5 linked regions of the Homo sapiens genome follow. The protein of the gene in region 4 purifies or fractionates together with the protein of the main gene of each other region. This does not show direct contact. Each region holds a gene or a part of one and is shown on either strand. Other genes may lie near its edges. The genes, in order: CR2, MARVELD2, ARHGEF1, MFSD2B and ENPP1.

Region 1 (3,518 bases), on a different chromosome or scaffold from region 4:
AGAATTTTCTCTTCATTCTTGCAATCCAAACTGCAACTCAGCCTACAATTTACCTATTTTGTTGAAATTCTGTATCCTGATCTCAAAGATGATTCTAAATAGGAAGTAGCAAGGTCAAAAGATATATGGAACTGGCTGATAAAAACCGAAAAGCTATGAGCTGGTCACCAGTCCCCGCCCCAGACCACAGATAAATTGTTATAGAAGGGACCTAGGGTGGCTTACTTTTTGCATGGAATAAAGTTGGCAGTGTGTAATCTCCTGGAATGTTTTAGATGTAAGCATTTACTCACTATGAAATAACTTATAATCAAAGGACAGTAAACAAAGGAACGTGTGGTAGGATTGGGGGCCATGAGGAAGATGGGTAAGTCATAGCTGTGTGCCTAGAGCTACTCAAACCAAGTGTAAACCCTCCTGGCTACTCACTTTGGTGTGCAGATGCTCAATTTCCCTCTGGAAGGGGACAAGAGGAATTAAATAGGGTGCAATAAAGAGATTGTTTTACTTACATTCATTAAAAGGCATGTCATTATCCCAGGTTACAATATTGTCTGAGATAATACATGTAGCAGATGAGTCACCAAAGAGTAGATATCTAAAGACAAAGAGATAAGAAATCTCGCGGCACACGTTTACCCTGTAACAAAACTGCACATCCTGCACATGTACCCCAGAACTTAAAATAAAAATAAAAATAAAGAGTGATCATCTCCCAGCTAGACTTACATTTTAGAAAAACTTAGTTCTTTCTCTACTGAAAGAATAGCAGAGAATAGAATATCATTTATGACAAGCAGGGGTGACAGATTAAGGACTCATACAATTTAAAGCCAAATGAAATTCAAGCTCCTGGTCAGTAGCACTGGAGACTTAAAACTGGAAGAGAGCAGCCAAAACTTCCTTCTCTTCTAGGGATCCTCTCTAGCTGGTAATCTTGAAGCAGTGTCTCTGGAGTGGATCAGGGAGGTGATTCCTTTTTGCTTATTTATTTTAAAAAGTATGTGGCAATTACTCAGATCTCTTTTGGAAGAGTGATGGTTTCTGGTTGGAACTGCTGTTCTGGTATCCATGTACCCAGGAACTGTCTCCTGCCAACTCACCCTTTATTACAAGAATATGTCATTGTCAACCCAAATGCAATACCCATGTGTGTAATCACAGAGTCCTAAAGGAGTTCTCTATGACTCACACATGATTTATCTACAAAAGAAAACCAAATCAACCCAAACAGAATTTGAGGCTGGGATTCAGGAGACTTTTTGGAGACTTTTTGTGTTTTATATTAAATCTCAACCTGACTGGACTTGCTGACAGGCCTGCTTATGTTTACTCACAGAAATTCTTACATTTACAAAACTTTCCAACGGATCAGTCAACTCTAGAACACTACTTGTTTAATGCACACAGTCTGCATTTCTGTGCATGGATGCCAACTTTATTTGTGGTCAGTTATAACTTATAGTCTTCATTTTCCATTTTTATACATATTCTGTTAATCTATGATATCATCTACCAAGTCTTCTGCCTTAAAAATCTCACAGTGATCATTTCCTTTTTGTAACTCATCCTCTAACTCATCCTCTACTCTCTTCTCTTCATTCAATTACTTACTGAAGTTTAGTGACTGGACTCCAGAAATCTCTCTCCAAACCAACTATTTTGTCATTGCAGTAGTCTCTCATTGGATCACTGAATGACATAATTTACTTTTCTAATTGTTCTCCCTTGGGCTGGTACACCTTCTATACTACTGCACATTTATCTTTCTAAAACACAAATGTGGTCATGCCACTCTGCACATTTAAAAACTTACTATGACTTACCACTGTTTATAGGGAAAAAATGCATATATTTTTTTACAAGTAAGCTCCAATCCATTTAATCAACTACCATTCCTCACTATGTAGCCTATACTCCAACAACACTGATTTTTTCCAGAGACATCATGTTCTTGCACACTTATGCTTTTGCAAATGCTGTTTCCTCTGCTCAGAGGGCCTATAGTTCTCTAATTCTTCTAGGTAGCATTTATGATTTATTTCTCTATGACCTCATAGCACTTCTTAAATAAGAGAACTACCTCATAGTACAATATATATTTAAGAGTTGGCCTTTACAACTAGTGTAGGAGTTTCTCAAAGGCAAAGACTATCAGATTCATTTTTATGTCACTCCCAGGCCCCACTGTCTGGTCTAGAGCTTAGTATCTAGTAGTTACTTAAAAGTATTTTTTGAATTGAATGGGATGAGGATGAGGTAATATTAACATCTCTTGTCTCTAACTTCTAACCTCACCCTAACACAGTATGGATACCATAGATCAAAGTCATAAAGATCACAGGATGAATAGGTTTGGCCAGCTATCATGACTTAACCCTCATACCCAGTGCCCCTAGGAGTAAAAGGAAGCATGGAGCACTCAGGAGCCCTCTTCACTTGAGATGACATGTGAATTTACTGGTCTTTTATCTTAAACATAACATGTTATCTCATCCAGATACAGCGACAGACCCAAATATGCCTCTATTACAGGATTACTCACCTTTACAGAACTGCTGAGCATCTGACCACTTGAAGATCTCTAGGGAGGTGACAAAGAATGCCTCTTGATATACCCAAGAAAGCATTTGTATTTGCAAGATATCTCAACAGCAAACTTAAGATTGGTTACTCTGAATTTTAGGCTTAGCAAAAGGAAACCTTGGCAGAAACTTACCCTGACCTGAGGACCTGAGACAAAGGCTACAGAAACATAAAAACCAAGAGAGGCTAAAACCTCTTCTCTGCTTCTGCCTTGTTACCAATTATCCTGAAAACTTTGATCTTTAGAATGAAAGTCTAAAATAGGGCAATATTTTATGGAATGAAGAATGCATATCATTGCAGTAAGGGTGAATATACACAGAAATAAGCTCAGAGGTTCAGAGAATTTTTAGGGTAGACTTCAGAGATGGAGAAAGTAATTTTTCATAAAATTTCAGAAAATCCTCAGAATTGTTCCATCTCCTTCACCCTTACAAGTAAAAATTAGTGGTTTTAGTTTGTTTGCTTGTTTTTTCACAGTGAGGTCAGAGTCTGGGGAAAACAGGAAAGGCATGTGGCAAGGGCCTTGAAGGATGATTACATATGTTTTGATTTTTTTTTATAAGGGTGGTAGGGGGAGCGGATATTAATATTTTTCCCAGCTTCAATGAGGTCTTATTTATACACAAAAAAACTGCACATAACTAATGTACGCTATTTGTGAATTTGTGGGACAAAAAGGTAAAAATCTTTAAATACAAACTTTCCCAGGATAGCATAAGAAACTAAAGTATATAAGAGATCTTGTAAAAGCTCAGTACACATATGATCCTGAAAATTACTTTAATGAATTTACATAACTATCTTAGCTATTAAACCGTTAATGCCTAGAGAGGAGAAAATATGTTGATTATTCTTCATTATTTTATTCTGTTAATCTAGTAGAGTAATATGCCACCAAAGAGAACTCAGTAAATACTTTCTGATGGGAA
Region 2 (3,518 bases), on a different chromosome or scaffold from region 4:
CTGTCTTAAAAATATTAAATAAATAAAACAATAACAAAAAAGATGGGGTTATCCATTTTAATTTTGAGACCTTCATAGTATCAAGTACAATACCATGTGCCCAGTTTAAGTCTTCAATAATGAGTCTTGGCAGGGTGTGAATGAAAAAATTTTTTTAAGTCTTCAAACAAAATACTTATAAACAATTCGAGAGAGAAATTCAGCATACCTTAAAACTAGTAGTTAATTCACAAATGGTTTCCTTCTTTCTGTATATGGGTGCAGAGCATTGATTTCATGAATCAACAGGCTTAGTAAAAGTGCATTTTCTATGCTTTATTTTTGAGGTGGATTGAATACCTTCTGAGATACTTGAGTCTCTCCTTGGGAACAGTAAATCACCTGAATTGCCCTCGAAAGAGTAATAGTAATGGTCATTGCTGCCATTCTCTATTGTGCCTTGGGGGAGCCTTAGCCTTTGGTGATGTTGTCTCTGAGATTCAACTTTTTTACATCTAGTTTCAATTGTTAATATTTTAGACTGGAAGAAGCAAGTCCTCTAAAATGACTTTGTTGATTTAGGAAGGGGAAGGGCTGTGCATACCCTGTGTTTTAACAGACTGCCTCTCCTAGGCTATTCCAAGTGAAAATGAAGAATATTTGCTGACCCATCAAATTTCGCTACACTCAAACTCTTAGTATTTTGATTTAGATGTTTGAGGAAATGACTCTACTTGGGAGTGTGTTCGCGTTCTGTTGTGTTAAAGTTTTGTCACTTTTGTTTTTTATTTTATTGTTTAATAGGGCTCACAGATAAATTAGATTTATAAATCATTTTTCATTTCTTTTTTTTTTTCTTTTTTTTAGAGACAGAGACTCACTGTGTCAGCCAGGCTGGAGTGCAGTGGCGCAATCTCGACTCACTGCAACCTCTGCCTCCCGGGTTCAAGCGGTCTATACCTCAGCCACCTGAGTAGCTGGGATCACAGGCGCATGCCACAACGCCTGGCTAGTTTTTGTATTTTTAGTAGAGATAGTGTTTCACCATGTTGGTCAGGCTGGTCTCAAACTCCTGACCTGAAATGATCCGTCTGTCTTGGCCTCCCAAAGTGCTGGGATTACAGGCATGAGCCACCGTGCCCGGTATCATATTTATCATTTTTGTATATCATAATAATTAGACATGATCCTGTTGGTCTCCTAAATACTTTTTGCTACTACATGAATAAAATCAGCATCATTGAGAGGATAAGTAACTAATCATAAGTGATAACTTTAAATTTGGCCACAGGTGTGAAAATCACAAATGTCAAATGATGGAAGATCCAGGAATCGGGACAGGCGCTACGATGAGGTCCCAAGCGACCTGCCCTATCAAGATACCACCATAAGAACCCACCCAACTCTTCATGACAGTGAGCGGGCAGTGAGCGCTGATCCCTTGCCACCACCCCCTCTCCCATTACAGCCACCATTCGGCCCAGACTTCTACTCAAGTGACACAGAAGAACCAGCTATAGCGCCAGATCTCAAACCAGTAAGGCGCTTTGTCCCTGACTCCTGGAAGAACTTTTTCAGAGGGAAGAAAAAGGACCCCGAATGGGATAAGCCGGTGTCTGATATCAGGTACATCTCCGATGGAGTGGAGTGTTCACCACCAGCCTCTCCAGCAAGACCAAACCACCGTTCGCCCCTCAACTCCTGCAAAGATCCCTACGGAGGGTCAGAAGGAACCTTTAGTTCCCGGAAAGAGGCTGACGCAGTGTTTCCCCGGGATCCCTATGGATCTCTAGACCGACACACACAAACAGTTCGAACATACAGTGAGAAGGTGGAGGAGTATAACCTGAGATACTCCTACATGAAGTCGTGGGCAGGCCTGCTGAGAATACTGGGTGTGGTGGAGCTGCTTTTGGGGGCCGGTGTCTTTGCTTGTGTCACAGCTTACATTCACAAGGACAGTGAGTGGTACAACTTGTTTGGATATTCACAACCGTATGGCATGGGAGGCGTTGGTGGATTGGGCAGTATGTATGGGGGCTATTACTACACTGGCCCTAAGACCCCTTTTGTACTCGTGGTTGCTGGATTAGCTTGGATCACCACCATTATTATTCTGGTTCTTGGCATGTCCATGTATTACCGGACCATTCTTCTGGACTCTAATTGGTGGCCCCTAACTGAATTTGGAATTAACGTTGCCTTGTTTATTTTGTATATGGCCGCAGCCATAGTCTATGTGAATGATACCAACCGAGGTGGCCTCTGCTACTATCCGTTATTTAATACACCAGTGAATGCAGTGTTCTGCCGGGTAGAAGGAGGACAGATAGCTGCAATGATCTTCCTGTTTGTCACCATGATAGTTTATCTCATTAGTGCTTTGGTTTGCCTAAAGTTATGGAGGCATGAGGCAGCTCGGAGACATAGAGAATATATGGAACAACAGGAGGTAAGTGATTTCATAATCCCTCATTTGTGTGTGTATGTTTGTTTTTTCTGTTATTTGCTCCCTTGTTAAAAAATGTATAGCGCTCAAAACAGAAAGCTTTCATAGAAATCTTTTCTTTCTTCCTTTTTTTTTTTTTCAATGGTCTGAGATTCAAAAGTCCTAGTGCAATATCTGACATGCTTTGACTGGGATAACCCACTCTGGTGTTTGGCTGTTACATAACATTGCAAGTAGACACCAGATGTGTAATATATAGTTTGTTGGCTGCATTATTATGTCTGTCTGAAGCTTAAGGGAAAGATACAGCTACCGAATTTTTGCAAAGAAGAAGAGTGTACTCAGTAAAATAAGTGTCTCATCATTAAGTTTGAGAACAATCTTAATTCTTTAATAAAAGCTCCTAATTTTTCATTTAAATGTTACAATTTACTTTCTCCCAGTGAGTTGAATAAAGCCAAATAAGAATGTGGTAAACCATGTTTGATTTTTTTTAAGTATTGAGAGATTGAATTGTAATGAACATACTCTGAAAACTTGCCCAGTGGTTTTGATAATTTGTCTTTATTTGAGGAAGACGTATGGTCCAAAATGAGAATGGAAGTCCTACATTGTTTTTATATTTCTAGAACTTAATAGGATAATAATGAGAATAAATAATAATGAGAACAATAAGAAGAATAAAATAATAATAACTGAAGGATGAGATAAAAGCCCTACCTAAAATTATTTTGGTTGAACAGTAGCAAATGTTAGAGTATGTTCCACTGGCTACATTATTCTCTGAAGTAAGTTGATATTTTGCCTTCTTCCAAGGATATGTGTATAGTAGACTCTCCTATGCCACTGAAATTTTCAGTATTTACCTTAAAATTTTTTGTAATTTTAAGTTAACTATATTATGAATTTTTGCTTTTCCACTTTTCCTAAGACTTCTTAGATACTATACAATTGCACATGGTATATATTGGGCAAAACTATAAATAAAAATTAAATCCTGTCCTTATAACAGCACACACTGACATATGTATTTTGTTTTTAATCTTTTGCTTGAATCTGATGCATAGCAACAAATAGCGCTTTGGTTTTA
Region 3 (3,518 bases), on a different chromosome or scaffold from region 4:
GAGCATTATGGGGACAAGCTAAGTGCTGGGGCTGACCTGCAGTGACCCACATTGGTAAGATGAGAGCCAAGACCAACTTCTGATGCGGGCAAGCTGAGGGTTGGGCCTGACCTCCAATGACCCTGAGAGGGAGATGCTGAGGGCCAAGCCAACCCCTGGACACAGTGACCCTTGAGGGAGACAAGCCAAGGGGTGGGGTGTGACTTCTGGACAGGCTGAGGTAGGGTCCACCCCCTGCTCTCACACCATCCACTGTCCCGGGTGTGGGGCCAGCCCAGGCTCACCAGCAGGTCCTCCATGTCACGCACGGCTTGGTTGACGTGGTGTAGAATTTCCCGGCAGCACTCGGCTGCCAGCTCCACTTTCTCCCGTTCTGTGGGCTCTTCTGCAGGCAAGGGAGAGAGCAGCTCTGGTGAACCCCTGCCCTGGAGGCTCCAGATTGGGCAGCCAAGGTTAGACAAAGGACAGCTGGCCGGGCATGGTGGCTCACGCCTGTAATCCAAGCACTTTGGGAGGCTGAGGCGGGAGGATAGCTTGAGACCAGGAGTTCAAAGCCAGCCTGGGCAACATGGCGAGACCCCGTCTCTAAAAAAAAAAACTAAAAAAATTAGCTGGGCATGGTGGTGTGCCCTTGGGGTCCCAGCTACTTGGGGAGCTGAGGTGGGAGGATGGTAGATCCTGGGAGGTTGAGGCTGCAGTGAGCTGTGATGGTATCACTGATGAAAATGAGTGAGAAAAAAAATGTAAAAAAAAAAGAGGAGAGCCGAGGCCCAGAGATCCAGGCCCGCGGTACCTGTGTTCTGCCCGATGCTCTGCAGGAGCAGGGGGTACTTGGTCAGCCGCTGCATCTCCGTGGGGATCATGTCCTTCAGCTGCAGGCGGCGGCACCGCGGGCGGCTCTCAGCTTCCTGCGGGAAACATGCTGGTGTTGCGATGGCCCAGGCTTTGGGCTCACCCCAGGGCGCAGGCACCTAGGAGTCTGGGTCTCCAGGCCCCTCCTCCCTGGGAAGCTGGAGTCCAGACCCCACCTCACCTGCACGAAGGCACAGAACCGAGGGTCCTTGCGTTGCTTGGCTTTGAGCTGCTCTAAGGCAAATGACTGGCGGCTGCAGAAGCGGGAGGAGATTTTCTGGAACCAGGAGCCCTCAGCACCATCAAACTACAGCGAGATTCAGGCCAGGCAGGTGTCTCAGTGGGGATGGGCAAGAACAGGGACTAAAGTACGACAGGCTGGAAGCCCAGACCCTGGGACTGGAGTAGGGTGGGCTCAGGACCCGTCCCGGGCCTGAATTCCATGTGTCTAGCTGGGAGGAGCGGGAGGGCTGGGCATCTCACCCGGGCCAGCAGCACGTCTCCGATCTCCTCGATGAGGTAGCCACTCTCCTGCCTCCGCTTCATCAGGCGATCGAGGAACAGGGCTGTGGGGGCAGGAGGAAAGGGATGCTCCACCAGGGTCTGGAAGATGCTGTGCGGGGCCTGCTGCGGTGTGGTGGGGGTAGGGCTGCAGGTGTGTCTGTGTCTGATCCTCGGGACCGGATGGCGTATCTGCCCCCACCCCATGTGAACCCTGGGGTTCCCGAGCAGGTTGAACCCAGGGCTAGAGCAGAGCTGCCCGTGGGGCAGTGGGGTACACAGAGGGACCCTGGCTCTGCACTCACAATGCACCTCGATGAGCTCGTCCAGGCTGGGGAAGATGTTCTGCAGCTCCTCCAAGGGGAAGAACAGGCATTCTGCCATGGGCTGGAAGAAGAGGTCGTGCAGCACCCGCAGCATGCGCACGTGGGCCGCCTCTGTCACCAGCAGCTCTGCAGGGCCACCAAAGCAGGAAGCATGTTGGGGAGGGTGCAGACTAGGGGGCATGACCTCATGGGCAGGCTAGAGGAATGAGGCAGAGCAGGGAGGAAAGCTTCCTAGAAGTTGGTGGGAAAAAACTCTCTCTGGCTAGCCATGGTGGTTCACACTTGTAATCCCAGCACTTTGGGAGGCCAAGGCAAGAGGATTGCTTGAACCCAGGAGTCCAAGATCAGCCTGGGCAACATGGTGAAACCCTGTTTCTACCAAAAATTTAAAAAAGAAAAAAAATTAGCCCAGGCATGTTGGTGTGTGCCTGTAGTCCCAGCTACTTGGGAGGCTCAAGTGGGAGGATCCCTTGAGCCCAGGAGGTTGAGGCTGCAGTGAGCTATGATGGCATTACTGCACCCCAGCTCAAGCAACAGAGCGAGACCTTGTCTCAAAACAAAATGGCTGGGCACAGTGGCTCATGCCTATAATCCCAGCATTTTGGGAGGCTGAGGCAGGTGGATCACAAGGTCAGGAGTTCAAGACCAGCCTGGCCAACATGGTGAAACCCCATCTCTACTAAAAAAATACAAAAATTAGCCAGGTGTGGGGGCGGACTCTTGTAGTCCCAGCTACTCGGGAGGCTGAGGCAGGAGAATCTCTTGAACCCGGGAGACAGAGGTTGCAGTGAGCTGAGATCACACCACTGCACTCCAGCCTGGTGACAGAACGAGACTCCGTCTCAAAAAAACAAAACAAAACAAACAAATAAAAAAAAAAACTCTCCGGGTGGAGTCATTTGCCCTCTTAAATAGCCACTGAGGGGCCGGGTGCAGTGGCTCATGCCTGTAATCCCAGCAATTTGGGAGGCTTAGGCGGGCAGATCACGAGGTCAAGAGATCAAGACCATCCTGGCCAACATGGTGAAACCCCATCTCTACTAAAAATACAAAAATTAGCCAGGAGTGGTGGTGGGCACCTGTAGTTCCAGCTACTTGGGAGGCTGAGGCAGGACAATCGCTTGAACCTGGGAGGTGGAGGTTGCAGTGAGCGGAGATCACGCCACTGCACTCTAGCCTAGGCGACAGAGCGAGATCGTCTCAAAAAAAAAAAAAAAAAAAAAAAACCAGTGAGGATTCCTCAACCCACTGCCTTTCCCTTTTCGCTGTGGCAGCTGGCCAGAGTGACCAATGGTCCTCATTTGCCTGCCTGGGCTTTCAGTGATAAAACTGTGAATATCCTGAGCAAATGGGGACAAGCTAGTCATCCCACCTGCCAGCAAGCTTGCAGCTGTGTTTAGTGTCTAACCATCAAGCCACATTATACAGTGGTTGACAGCCTCAGATCCAGGGACCCCCACATCCCCGGAGGGCATATGTGTGAGTTTCAGGGGCCCTAGAAGTCCCCTGAGACTAAAAGCACGATTTTGTACATTATGCATATTCTTTCTGGGGAAAGAAATTGCTATCCTGTCCAACGTGATAGTCACCAGCCGTGTACAACTCTTTACATTTTCGTTAATTGCAATGAAATTTTAAGTCAGTGCTCAGTTGTATTTAGTGCTTTTTTTTTGAGACACAGTCTTGCTCTGTCACCTAGATTGAAGTGTGGTGGAGTGATCTGGGTTCATTGCAACCTCCATCTCCTGCTTCCTGGGTTCAAGCAATTCTCCTGGCTTACTCTCTCGAGTATCTGGGATTACAGGCATGCGCCACTATGCTTGGCTAATTTTTGTATGT
Region 4 (3,518 bases):
GAAATGTTTAGAGGTCAGGGTTTAGGATCTTTTTTCTCTTCGTCTCACTTCCTCTTAGGATGACATGGGGGCAAAATGGGGCTGAGAGGTTGCTGGAAAAGCCCTGAAGACATCACAGAGACTCAGGATGTTTACTGAAGTCATGGGGTGTGGGGACCTGTTTTGTGTCTGTTGGGAGAAGGGCTTAGTTCCTGTGTCTCCTCCAGGACAGCAGAGCCGGTCGCCTCTCATTCTGTACAAAGGTGTGCTATGGCATTGGTGGGGTCCCCAACCAGATAGCCTCCAGCGCCACAGCCTTTTACCTGCAGCTTTTCCTGCTTGATATAGCACAGGTAAGTGTGGGCAGTAGCCCAGTCTCTGCTGGCATCTTCCTTGGGGTCTGGTCCTTCCACCCCCACCTCTGCTTCTGCTCCCACTATCCTTGTAGACAGCACTTCTGACACGAGCTCAACAAAAAGCCAGAAGCCAATGAGGGCAAGGTACTCAAGAATGTTTACTGCAGCCTGTTTGTAGTGGGAAAATGAGAAACAATGTAGATCCCCGACAATATAGAAGCAGTTGGCTAAGTAAGCTGTATCATAGCCACATAATAGACCAAGCCTGTCCAACCCGCGGCGGGACGGCTTTGAATGCGGCCCCACACAAATTTGTAAACTTTCTTAAAACAGTATGAATTTTTTTGTTTTTTTTTTTTTTTAGCTCATTAGCTATCATTAGTGTTAGTGTATTTTATGTGTTTATATGTGGCCCAAGACGATTCTTTTTTTTTTTTTTTTTTTGAGACAGAGTCTCACTCTGTTGCCCAGGCTGGAGTGCAGTGGTGTGATCTTGGGGCTCACTGCAACCTCTGCCTCCCAGGTTCAAGCGATTCTCATGCCTCAGCCTCCCGAGTAGCTGGGATCACAGGTGCACACCACCACACTCGGCTAATTTGTTGTTTGTTTTTTTTTTTGAGATGGAGTCTCGCTCTGTCACCCAGGCTGGAGTGCAATGGCATGATCTCGGCTCACTGCAACCTCTGCCTCCCGGGTTTAGCAATTCTCCTGCCTCAGCCTCCAGAGTAGCTGGGATTACAGGTGTGTGCCATCATGCCTGGCTAATTTTTTGTATTTTTAGTAGAGACAACAGTTTCACCATGCTGGCCAGGCTGGTCTTGAACTCCTGACCTCGTGATCCACCCACCTCAGCCTCCCAAAGTGCTGGGATTATAGACGTGGACCACCGCGCCCAGTCTACAGCTAATTTTTGTGTTTTTAGTAGAGACGGGGTTTCGCCATGTTGGCCAGGCTGGTCTCGAACTCCTGATCTCAGGTGTTCCATCCACCACAGCTTCCCAAAGTGCTGGGATTACAGGCGTGAGCCACCGTGCCTGGCCAAGACAATTCTTCTTCTTCCAGTGTGGCCCACAGAAGTCAACAGACTACACTAACATCACTATCAAATAGACTATCATGCAGCCATTCAAAATAATGATCTATACCAGTTGACTTAGAGTGATTTCCATGATGCTCTGGTGAAAAAGAAAAGTTAGTTTTAGAGAAGAGTATATAAAATGATCCCATTTTAACAAAACAAAGACAGGCTCCATATGTGTGTGTGTGGATGGATATGTATATATACATATGTATCTGTCCATGTTTAAAATGTGAGCATGGAGAAAATTCTAGAAGGATATACACCAACTCGTTAATGTTGGCTACCGGAGGGAATGATGGAGAATGGAGGGTAAGTAAAACCAAATTTTTAAAATGAGGTATCCAGCCGAGCATGGTGGCTCACAGCTGTAATCCCAGCACTTTGCGAGGCCGAGGAGGGAGGATCACTTGAGGTCAGGAGTTCAAGACCAGCTTGACCAATATGGTGAACCCCATTTCTACTAAATATACAAAAATTAGCCAGGCGTGGTGGCACACGCCTGTAGTCACAGCTACTCAGGAAGCTGAGGCAGGATAATTGCTTGAACCCAGGAGGTGGAGGTTGCAGTGAGCTAAGATTGCACCACCACATTCCAGCCTGGGCGACAGAGCAAGACTCCCTCTCAAAAACAAAACAAAAACCAACAACAAAAAAATGAGGTATCCAGCCGGGTATGGTGGCTCACACACCCAGCACTTTGGGAGGTCAAGGCGGGAGGACCGTCTAAGCTCAGGTGTTCAAGACCAGCCTGGGCAACATGGCAAAACTCCACCTCCACAAAAAAAAAAAAAATTTAAAAATACAAAAATTAGCTCGGTGTAGAGGAACGTGCCTGTGGTCTCAGCTACTTGGGAGGCTGAGGTGGGAGAATCACCTGAGCCCAAGAGGCAGTGGTTGCAGTGAGCCGAGATGGTGCCACTGCACTCCAGCCTGGGCAACAGAGCGAGGCCCTGTCTCAATTAAAAAATAAAATAAAATAATAAAATGAGGTATCCACGAATGTTTAAGATGACAGTCTGATATGATCCCATTTATATAAACTGATCAATCTCAAGCACACATGAAGAAGCCTATGAAAGGCTGATCATCCAAACGATTCTGGCAGTTGTCTTGGGATGCTGCGATTTCAGATGAGCTTTGCTTAGTATTTTCCTGCATAGTTTGAGTGTTTTTCTAATAAGTGTATTATTTACATAGTCAGAAAAAACAATGCATCCTTTCCATTGTGAAACACAGTGTCCACCTCTGTCAGCCCAGAGGCACCCTCCTTGCTCTGAGCCAGAATGTTTTTCTAATGAGTGTATTATTTACATAGTCAGAAAAACCAGTGAATCCTTTCCATTGTGAAACACAGTGTCCACCTCTGTCAGCCCAGAGGCACCCTCCTTGCTCTGAGCCAGCCCCAGATGAGGGCCCTGGAGTCCTCTCCGCAGTGGCTGACATGAGTACTAATGGGAGTGTGCAGGGCGGCAGCACTCAGCTCCCTCCCCTGGACTCAGCCCCGGGATCAGCATCCTGGGGAAGGCTGAGGAGCCCTTGACACTGTGGCTCTGCCCTCCGGTCCCGGTTCCCAGGCCTCCCTCTTGATGGCAAGCAGGCCTGGATGGGCTCTCTGCTGCTGCTGGGCCTCAGCTCTCTATCCCCTCCCCTGTCTGTTTCAGATCCCTGCCGCCCAGGTGTCACTTGTTCTGTTTGGGGGAAAAGTGTCTGGGGCGGCTGCTGACCCTGTGGCTGGGTTCTTCATCAACAGGAGCCAGAGGACAGGGTCTGGACGGCTCATGCCTTGGTGAGCAACCGCTCAGTCCTTAGGATCCAGGCACCTGGTCCTGGCCCTGAGGTCACTGTTTGTCACAGCCCTATTTCCTAGCAGAAACCCACTGGGTGGTTAGGAGACAAGACTGGATAATATCGCAGGTGCACTGGGGACTGACTGTGAGTGATAAGGAGTTCAGAGACATTCTTGGGGACTCTCCCTCCCCAGATGGCACGGGGCTGGATGAAGCCTCCAAGACTCCCAGGCCTGGCCTGGGGCACTGAGTGTGGGAAGGCTGGGCTGAAGGCCATGCGAGGCCTCACGGAGGAAGTACAGCTCAGTGTCCCAA
Region 5 (3,518 bases), on a different chromosome or scaffold from region 4:
TCATTATAAAATTTTACTTAATGCTTATGAAAGCACTCATGTGAAAAGCTTCAGCATGAAGTGTAATCACCACATTCAGTTTCAAAGTTCAAATGCCCATTCCTATGATGGGTAAACACCTACCATAGCGCAAAGAAGGAGAGTGATTGTGGGTAATGACAGAGGAGGAAAAGTGAAGGGGGTAACAGCTTCTCCCAGAGGAGGGGGTGGTCCCTGTTCCATGCCCATCTTGTCTCCTTAAACAGGAACAGCCAACAGGCCTACCAGTCCTTGTACTCTATGCAGCTACTTCCCCTGCTGGAAATGAGCAGCTGCCTTCTTCTCCCTAAGGTTTGTCCTCTTTTATCTGATTCTTGGAAACGTTTTTTTAAGTTTTGCCAGGTTCTTTGTTCTTTCATGAATGAACTGATGGAAATTTTCTATGGAAGTTACTTACCTCACTTAAGAAGCACACAGCAGCTCTCGCCTATAATCCTAGCACTTTGGGAGGCCAAGGCGGGGGGATTGTCTGAGCTCAGGAGATCAAGACCAGCCTGAGCAACACAGTGAAACCCCATCTCCACTAAAATACAAAAAGCCAGGTGTGGCATGCGCCTATAATCCCAGCTACTCAGGAGGCTGAGGCAGGAGAATTGCTAGAACCCCGGAGGTGGAGGTTGCAGTGAGCCGAGATCATGCCACTGCAGTCTAGCCTGGGCCACAGAGCGAGACTCTGTCTCAAAAAAAAAAAAAAGGACTGATGTGAGGCATGACAGTAGAAATCAGGATAGGCTGGAGGCAGTGGCTCGAGCCTGTAATCCCAGCACTTTGGGAGGCCGAGGCGGGCAGATCACAAGGTCAGGAGATCGAGACCATCCTGGCTAACACGGTGAAACTCCATTCTCTACTAAAAATACAAAAAATTAGCCAGGCGTGACGGCAGGTGCCTGTAGTCCCAGTTACTCGGGAGGCTGAGCCAGGAGAATGGCGTGAACCTGGGAGGCGGAGCTTGCAGTGAGCCAAGATCTTGCCACTGCACTCCAGCCTGGGTGACAGAGCATCTCAAAAAAAAAAAAAAAAAAAAAAAAAAAAAAGAAATCAAGATAAATAAAGGTTTCACTTTGCATTTGAAAAGCTAAGAACAGCCTTTATTGGAGAAAGTAGGATAAAGACATTTCCATATATGTTCATGGGAATTTACCATTCAAATTTACCATTCAAACTGGGGGAGTAGAGATCAGTCACTTTTGCCATCTTATCTGTTTAAAACTCTTTCAAGAAAAGAAAAGAAAGGAGGAGTCTCTTTCAAGAAAAGAAAAAAAGGAATACTGTGTAAGAACCACAGAAAAAAAGCTAAGTAGGAGCAGATGTGGGTGCTCTTTCCTTAACAGTCAGCATAGAATGTAGAGACTGACATTTTCTTTAAGAACAGATTATTATAACTAAGCAAGAAAAAGTATGTGTACATAAGTTGGTCACAGTGACACTTGTAGAAAATATAAGTAGCTGTAAATGGGAAAATGTCAAAAATGTTCCATCCAAGGAATGTTAGAAGGTCCCTTCTTTGCCTTGCTCATCTGAAAAGTTCCAATTCACCCTACAAGCCTTAGCCCCAAGGCTGGGAAGCCACTGCCTCTACTACCAAGAAGCATCCAGTGTCTCTTTTGTGCAGCCTGGCACCCCTCCTGTGGCTTCATGATAACATCTATCACTCTTTAGGGATCATTTACACTTCTGCTGTCTCTTCTCCCTAAGACAGAGAAAATTGTCACTTGTTCTTTTTTGTATTCTTGGCGTCCAGCAAAGGGAACAGACATCTATCCATTTAATTAAGCTCTGCTAAGATGCTTTGAGTTAAATTGTGTATGTTTGTGTGCTGGAAAAATATGTAAAAATCAGTGAGACACTTCTACAAAGGCAGAGTAGACATCCTTCTGCTAAATGCATATAAAAATCCTGGATATTATATTAAAACACAGCAAGACTCTGAATAGTAGACAGAAAATAGGCTAGGAACATTGGGGCCCAAGTAACAACACTGTGATGAGTTCCCTACATTTTCTTTTCAGCTCATATATTTCCAACTTGGAGCTGAAAAAGTCAGCAACCTGGAAATGTCAATAAATGCAGGGGAAAAAAAAGCCCTAAGAGAGTCCTGCTCTCTCCTGCCAAAGGACCAGAAAAGGGTAGCCAAGCAAGGGTAAAAAAGGCTGTACTCCAACCAAACACCATGGAAAAACACCATGGCCCCACCCATACCAGCAAATGCTGAGTGGGGAGTCCAGACTTACACTCTCACCAAGCTGTAAAGAGGTGCCCCAACTCCCTGACTTTTGTATTCTTGGTATCCAGCAAAGGGAACAGGCATCTATCCATTTAATTAAGCTCTGCTAAGATGCTTTGAGTTAAATTGTGTATGTTTGTGTGCTGGAAGAATACAACTCCAGAGTGGTGTCGGAGAAGGCTGTGTAGGCTACTGGGAATTTCATTCCCACCTGGTGTAATGAAGCTCTTCCTGGTCACTCTGTCCCATAGCATTAGTGGAGATTCCCAGGGTGCACCAAAAGGTGCCGCTGCACATTCCAGCCAGGGAAGAATCAATAAAGACCTAATGGGAAACTGAATTCTCACCTTGCCCAGTAGTAATGAGGGGACCCTGTTACTCAGTATAAAGGGAGGCTGACTGGGGAACCTGGACTCCTAGCCACACCTGGTAATAATGAAGCAGTGCTCCCAATTCCCCTGCTGTGGTGGTATCTGAGAAAGTTGGCTAAAGCAGAAGGTTTAAATAAGACCCATAGTCTCATAACATAATACCTAAAAATATCCAGGTTTCAATAAAAAATCATTCCACACACCAAGAAACAGGAAAATGTTTCCGAATGGAAAAAAGACCATCAGTAGATGCAAACAATGAGGTGACAGATGTTGGAATTATCTGATAAGGATTTTACAGCAGCCATCATAAAAATTCTTCAACAAGCAAGTATAAATGCACTTGAAACAAATGAAAACGTAGAAAGTCTCAGCAAAGAGACAGAAATTCTCAGCAAATAGAAGATATAAAGAAAAACTGAATGGAAATTTTAGAAATAAAACATACAATAACTAAAATATAAAAATCAGGAATAAATGGGCTCAACAGCAGAACAGATTAGACAGAATAAAGAATCAGTGAGCTTCGAGACAGAAGAATAAAATTACCTAATCTGAACAACAGAGAGAAGCAGGCTGAAAAAAATATCATATACAGAGCTTCAGGAAACTGCAGGACTGAAAAAAAAAAAAAAAAAAAGCAACTTCCTAAATTATTAAATAATTTTGAGTTGTAAATTGTATTTTCCAAAAGTCTTTGCAGCTGGCCCTTAGGCCGTTGAAGAATGGTCACACGAAGGACATATAAAAATCTTTGGTGTACTGATATTATACCTCAATTGGACCTATGTAGCCTAAAAGTTAATGCAGTCTTTGAAGGTTCACAGGTAGGGATAAAAAGCTACAGTCAAGGTAGTAAAGAAATCAAGTTCATTGTGTCATTT

The links.
Region 1: the proteins of MFSD2B (region 4) and CR2 purify together in Homo sapiens (affinity purification with mass spectrometry; one large-scale study listed by BioGRID and IntAct). This does not show direct contact.
Region 2: the proteins of MFSD2B (region 4) and MARVELD2 purify together in Homo sapiens (affinity purification with mass spectrometry; one large-scale study listed by BioGRID and IntAct). This does not show direct contact.
Region 3: the proteins of MFSD2B (region 4) and ARHGEF1 purify together in Homo sapiens (affinity purification with mass spectrometry; one large-scale study listed by BioGRID and IntAct). This does not show direct contact.
Region 5: the proteins of MFSD2B (region 4) and ENPP1 purify together in Homo sapiens (affinity purification with mass spectrometry; one large-scale study listed by BioGRID and IntAct). This does not show direct contact.

What each region holds. Positions count from the first base shown.
Region 1 is NC_000001.11:207,460,821-207,464,338, reverse strand, and holds part of CR2 (complement receptor type 2 isoform 1 precursor), read right to left. Parts: intron 1-3,518. UniProt on the Homo sapiens protein: Serves as a receptor for various ligands including complement component CD3d, HNRNPU OR IFNA1. When C3d is bound to antigens, attaches to C3d on B-cell surface and thereby facilitates the recognition and uptake of antigens by B-cells.
Region 2 is NC_000005.10:69,418,101-69,421,618, forward strand, and holds part of MARVELD2 (MARVEL domain-containing protein 2), read left to right. Parts: intron 1-1,270; 5' UTR 1,271-1,285; coding exon 1,286-2,431; intron 2,432-3,518. UniProt on the Homo sapiens protein: Plays a role in the formation of tricellular tight junctions and of epithelial barriers.
Region 3 is NC_000019.10:41,900,174-41,903,691, reverse strand, and holds part of ARHGEF1 (rho guanine nucleotide exchange factor 1), read right to left. Parts: intron 1,806-3,518; coding exon 1,659-1,805; intron 1,419-1,658; coding exon 1,336-1,418; intron 1,160-1,335; coding exon 1,034-1,159; intron 909-1,033; coding exon 794-908; intron 386-793; coding exon 285-385; intron 37-284; coding exon of another isoform or gene 19-36; exon of another isoform or gene 1-18. UniProt on the Homo sapiens protein: Seems to play a role in the regulation of RhoA GTPase by guanine nucleotide-binding alpha-12 (GNA12) and alpha-13 (GNA13) subunits. Acts as a GTPase-activating protein (GAP) for GNA12 and GNA13, and as guanine nucleotide exchange factor (GEF) for RhoA GTPase.
Region 4 is NC_000002.12:24,013,079-24,016,596, forward strand, and holds part of MFSD2B (sphingosine-1-phosphate transporter MFSD2B), read left to right. Parts: intron 1-206; coding exon 207-332; intron 333-3,077; coding exon 3,078-3,202; intron 3,203-3,518.
Region 5 is NC_000006.12:131,891,505-131,895,022, reverse strand, and holds part of ENPP1 (ectonucleotide pyrophosphatase/phosphodiesterase family member 1), read right to left. Parts: 3' UTR 1-3,518. UniProt on the Homo sapiens protein: Nucleotide pyrophosphatase that generates diphosphate (PPi) and functions in bone mineralization and soft tissue calcification by regulating pyrophosphate levels.